Linked DNA regions of Homo sapiens: region 1 is linked to region 2. The links come from fine-mapping of genetic effects on gene expression. Tissue or cell type: whole blood. Region 2 holds a variant in brackets; the other region holds the start of a gene. All regions are shown on one strand. Distances are between the middles of the regions.

Evidence for each region. PIP is the estimated chance that this variant, and not a neighbour inherited with it, causes the effect.
Region 1: it holds the start of PCBP4, and the variant in region 2 is fine-mapped to the expression of PCBP4 in whole blood (TOPMed, PIP above 0.99).

What each region holds. Positions count from the first base shown.
Region 1 is chr3:51,965,850-51,968,529 of GRCh38, reverse strand. It overlaps PCBP4 (poly(rC) binding protein 4), which reads left to right and starts at 1,076. Exons shown (of 14, transcript NM_001174100.2): 1 at 1,076-1,204. It overlaps ABHD14B (abhydrolase domain containing 14B), which reads left to right. Exons shown (of 4, transcript NM_001146314.2): 4 at 1-15. RefSeq lists enhancers at 1-545, 1,672-2,233, 2,234-2,680 and silencers at 507-586, 617-896, 907-1,016, 1,117-1,386.
Region 2 is chr3:51,924,333-51,927,012 of GRCh38, reverse strand. No RefSeq gene overlaps it. Among named protein-coding and RNA genes, the nearest start is that of RRP9, 16 kb to the left of the region's middle. The variant TTG/G (reference allele first, on the strand shown) is at 1,544.

The DNA.
Region 1 (2,680 bases), 42 kb before region 2:
AGTGATGCAATTAGACCCCACCGGCTCCTGCTTCTAAAGAGCGCCGCCCCTCCCCCACCCCTGGGACCAACACTGTGGGCCCCTCCCCCACCCCGGCGGGACCAGATGGTCCCCCTGCCCTTTGTCCACCAGGCCAGATGGAGAGGAAGGGAGATTGGATTCCCCTCCCCACCCACACATACCCAGGTGCCAAGAGACTCAGCTGTGGGGGGAGGTGGAGGTCAGTGGGACCAGGCTGAGCCGATTATGGAGGAGTGGGGGGGAAGGAATAGTTGCTTCCCCGAGGGCGGGGGGTGCCCAGCGGACTTGAGAACAGTTCATCACCCCCACTAGTATCCCTTCCCCAGTAAAAGACTCAACGGAGCCCGTTCCTTGCGACCCTATCCCCAAAAGGAATTCCGGGGGTAGATTTGGGGTTATCACAGGATCGGGTGCACAGGGCCACACGGCTCTCAGGCCCCTCCTCCAGCCTGTCCTGCGCGGACGAGGGCCGGGCCATGCAGCTGTGGGTGGCCGAGGAGAGCGGGTCTTGGTGGGCGCAAGCCCGAGCGGAGGATGGCGCGCAGCGAGCAGAGCCGGGAGCTAGGCGGGGCGCAGGGTCCCAGCCGGAGCTCGGAGGGACGCGGGCCGGGAGCGAGGCGGAGCCGGGGCTGGCGGGGCCAAGGCGGGGATGGGGGTGCAGGGGGCTCGGCAGAGGCGCCGGGCGGGCGGCCCGGGCCGGAAGGACTGGCCTGGCGGGAGCGGAGGGGCTTGGAGCCGGGCGCAGCGCGGGCGGTGCGGGGAAGGCCGTGGCTGGGGACCGGGCTTCAGGCCGGACGCCCCTACCCCCAACCCGTGGGGCTCTGGGAGTGGCAGGGGAAGGGTCGCCCGAGCCCTCCAGGAAGCGGCCGCCGCTCGGGGCGCACCGCGGCGCGCGGGGCGGGGCGGGCGGCTGCGGCACTGGGGCGGCTGGGGCGGGCCCGCCGCTCTGTAATCGGATCCGGGGAGGGGGCGGGGAGGGGCCGGGCCGGGCGGGCCGGGGGGTGGGGGGGGGGCGCGGAGCCGGGCTCCGGGCCGGCCGGGCTCCGCGCCTGTCAAACCCCTCATTGTTCGCAGCTGATGTCACTCGCAGTTGTGAGCGGCCGCCTCTCCCGGGGACAATGTGGGACTGAGCGGCCCAGCCGCCGTGCCGCCGCCGCCGCCGCCGCAGGACAGCCCCAGCGAGGTAGGGCGCGGGCCGGGCGGGGCACGGCGGGCCGCGAAGTTTGGGGGTTCGCCCGGGGGCAGGGAGCCCGCGCCCAGATCCCTCGGTTGGGGTCGCAGGTTTGTGAGACTGCGAGGAACACGTTCTCTGTCCCACACCGCTGAGGCCTGCACAGGTGGGAGGCGCTGGTCTGCCAGAGGCGCCCTTGGCACCAGGGAGGGGCTTCCTGGACCTTAGATCCCAGATTTGAGGCCCCCATCCCACTCGCTGTTTCTGTCCTTTGCGCCTGCTCCTCTCTCTGACTCCTGCCCTGGGTTCTGGTTCTGCTCCATCTCTGCCCTCACTTGCCACTCCCCTGTAGCTCCTGGCTGGGCACACACTCCTTCCCATCCTCCGCAGTCGTTGGGGGAGCCAGATACAGACCTCCAGGCCAGGGGTGTATGGAGATGACAGCTGGGGGCTCAGAGTGGTCCCTCTTGCCCCATAGCTCTTCAGCCCTTCAGCTCTGACCTAGCTTCTTGGCTGGGGTCCTGGGGGGTGGGGGTGGGAGGCTCTGCTACTCACTTCAGCCTGGCCCTCATGCCTGCCTGGCCAGGAGAGGGAGGTGCCCGCCTCCTCTCTCCCCTATCCCTGGCCCGCCATCTTGAGACCTGTGGCACCCAGTGCCCCACCCGGCCCCAGCACCCAGGGGAGTGGTCTCCAAGGTGATGATGCACCCAGGGCCAGTTGCATTCCTTTCTCCCCACCAAGCCCAGGATGCTCATGTTCGTGCTGAACCAGCAGGACATGTGTCCCCAGGGGCTTGCCTTCCGCCACAAAGGCTCTTACAATCCATGAACTCCCTAGGAGCTGAGCTCCTGCCCTCCCTGTTCCCTGGGTCACCCTCATTGCCTCAGGACCAGTACCTGGGACCCTATTCTTTCCCCATCTGAAAAAATCCCCTGGTCTTCCCAGGTCCTGGAGCCCCCTCAACCTCCAGGGCACCCCCATCCCAGCCCCCACCCCCTAGCCTTCATCAGCATGCAGGCTCAGGCTGCCCAAACACAAGGGGATTGTTCTTCTTGCATGCTCAGGGTGGGGGGCTGGGAGCAGGCAGCCCACACACCCTGGCAGGCCCAGGCCACGAGGAGGCTGGCTTGCCCCACCCTGTGTCCCCAGACAGGCTGTCCACCCTCCCTACTCCCATCACTGCTGCCCCTCCAGCCTCCATCACCATTGCCCAGTGGCGCTGACATCTTGAGGAAAGAGCTCTGAGCTGCACAGGTAGACCCCTGGGTTCTCCAGCTCTGCCAGTTGTCTCCCATGTAGCCTTACAAACATTTCCCTTCCTCTCTGGGCCGCGAGCCCCTCTTGTGATTGGTAAGACCTTTCCAGCTGTGACAGGCTGAGCCCAACTCGACTCTGTGAAACGTACCCCACCCCCCAGCCCTTCTTCCAGTCCCCCTCTTCCATGAGGAGACCCACTCTGCTCCCACCCTCTGAAAACCTAAAGCACAG
Region 2 (2,680 bases):
CATGTGGTTATTTTCCATCTGTGTATCTTTGGTGAAGTATCTGTTCAAATCCTTTGCTTATTTAAATATTATGTTGTTTGTCTTTTAAGAATGTCAAATAGCCGGGCACGGTGGCTCACGCCTGTAATCCCAGCACTTTGGGAGGCCAAGGTGGGCGGATCAGGAGGTCAGGAGATCAAGACCATCCTGGCTAACGAGGGGAAACCCCATCTCTACTAAAAATACAAAAAAAATAGTTGGGTGTGGTGGCGGGCGCCTGTAGTCCCAGCTACTCGGGAGGCTGAGGCAGGAGAATGGCGTGAACCCGGGAGGTGGAGCTTGCAGTGAGCAGAGATCGCCCCACTGCACTCCAGCCTGGGTGACAGAGTGAGACTCCATCTCAAAAAAAAAAAAAAAAAGAATGTCAAATAAATGGAATTATACAGCATATAACATTTTGAGACTGGCTTCTATTACTCAACCTAATGTCTCTGAGTTTGTACAAGTGGTTGTGTGTATCAACAGCTTGTTCCTTTTCACTGCTGGAATTACAGCAGTTGGTGTATCCATTTACCCTTTGAAGCACATTGGGTTGTTTCCAGTTTTTGGCTATTACAATTAAAACTGCTGTGAACCTTTGTGTACATGTTTTTATGTGAGCGTAAGGTTTAATTTCACTTGGGCAGATACCCAGGAGTGGGATTGCTGGACGATTTGGTAAGTATATGTTTACCTTATAAGAAACTGCCAAACCATTTTCCAGCATGGTTGTATTTTTCTCATTCCAACCAGCAGTGTATGAGTGTTCCAGTTCCTCGTCATTCTTGCCAACTCTTGGTGTTGCCAGGATTTTTAATTTTAGCATTTCTAACAGGGGCATAGTGATATCTCATTGTGGTTTTAATTTGCATTTTCCTAATGGCTAATTATATTGAACATCTTTTAATACATTCACTTGCTATCATTACATCCTTTTTGATGCTGTGTTTGTTCAAGTCCTTTGTCCATTTTTAATTGGGTTTGTTTACTTATTATTTAATTTTGAGAATTCTCAATAAATAAGTCCCTTCTAGAATGTGATTTGCATATATTTTCTCCAATTCTGTGGCTTGCTTTTCCATTCTGTTAACAGTCTTTTTCACTGAACAAAATTTTTTTTTTTTTTTTTTGAAACAGAGCTTCACTCTTGTTGCCCAGGCTGGAGCTCAATGGCGTGATCTTGGCTCACCACAACCTCCGCCTCCCAGGTTCAAGCAATTCTCCTGCCTCAGCCTCTGGAGTAGCTGGGGTTACAGGCATGCACCACCATGCCCAGTTAATTTTGTATTTTTAGTAGAGATGGGGTTTCTCCCTGTTGGTCAGGCTGGTCTCGAACTCCCGACCTCATCCGCCCGCCTCAGCCTCCCAAAGTGCTGGGATTACAGGCGTGAGCCACTGCGCCTGACCTACACTGAGCAAAAGTTTTAAATTTTGAAGTCAAATTCATTTTTTCTTTCATGGATAATGCTTTTGGTGTTATATCTAAGAAGTATTTCTTTACCCCAATATTATGAAAAATTTTCTC[TTG/G]TTTTCTTCTTAAAGTTTTACATTTTACATTTACAGCTATAATCCATTTTGGGTTAATTTTTTATAAGGTAGGAAGTTTAGGCTGAGAGTCTTCCTTTTTAAATTTTCTGATAGATGTCCAATTATCCCAACACCATTGAAAAAAAAAGACTACTCTTTCTCCATTAAATTGCCTTTGCATCTTTGTGGGAAAAAAAAGCAATTAGTCATATTTGTGGAGATCTATTTCCGGACATTCTATTGTGATCGATTTATCTGTGCTTCTAATCTTCACTAATGCCATAATGTTTTGATTACTATAGCTTTATAGTAAGTCTTAAAATTGAGTTATGTGAGTCTTTCAACTTTTTTTAATCTTCAAAATTGTGCTATTCTAGTTCCTTTGCTTTTCTACATAAATTTTAGAATCAGCTTGTCTCTTCTAAAATTCTGCTGGGATTTTGATTCAAATGACGTTTAATTTATGGACCAATTTGGGGAGTATTTAGCTATATTGAGTCTCCCAATCAATAGACATGATATATCTTTCTATTTGTGTCTTTTTATTTTGGTCATCAGCATTTTGTATATTTCAGAATATGTATTCTGCTCATGTTTTATTAGATATGTGTTTTATTAGATTAGATAAATCCAAGCATTATATTTTTGGAGCTATTGTAAATGATATTGTTTTTATAATTTTGGTTTCCAACAATTCATGGAAGTATATGGACCTATGATTAAATTTTGTATGTTAACCTTACATATTTTTTTTCTTTGAGCATGAAAATAAATCCTTATTTTAATCTTGCTAAGCTCACTTAGTTTTAGGGGCCTTTGGTGGAGTCTTTGAGATTTCCTATGTAGACAGTCACTGTGAATATGGACACTTTTATTTCTTTTCGAATGTGTATGGTTTTTATTTCTTTTTCATGCCTTGTTGCACTAAGACTTCCAGTACAATCTTGAGCAGGAGTGGTGAGAGTGGACCCATTGTCTTGTTCCCAATCATAAGAGCGAACATTTAGTTTATCACCATTAACAATTCTTTTACCTGCCAATTTTTTTTTTTTTTTTTTCGAGACGCAGTCTCGCTCTGTTGCCAGGCTGGAGTGCAGTGGCATGATCTTGGCTCACTGCAACCTCGGCCTCCTGG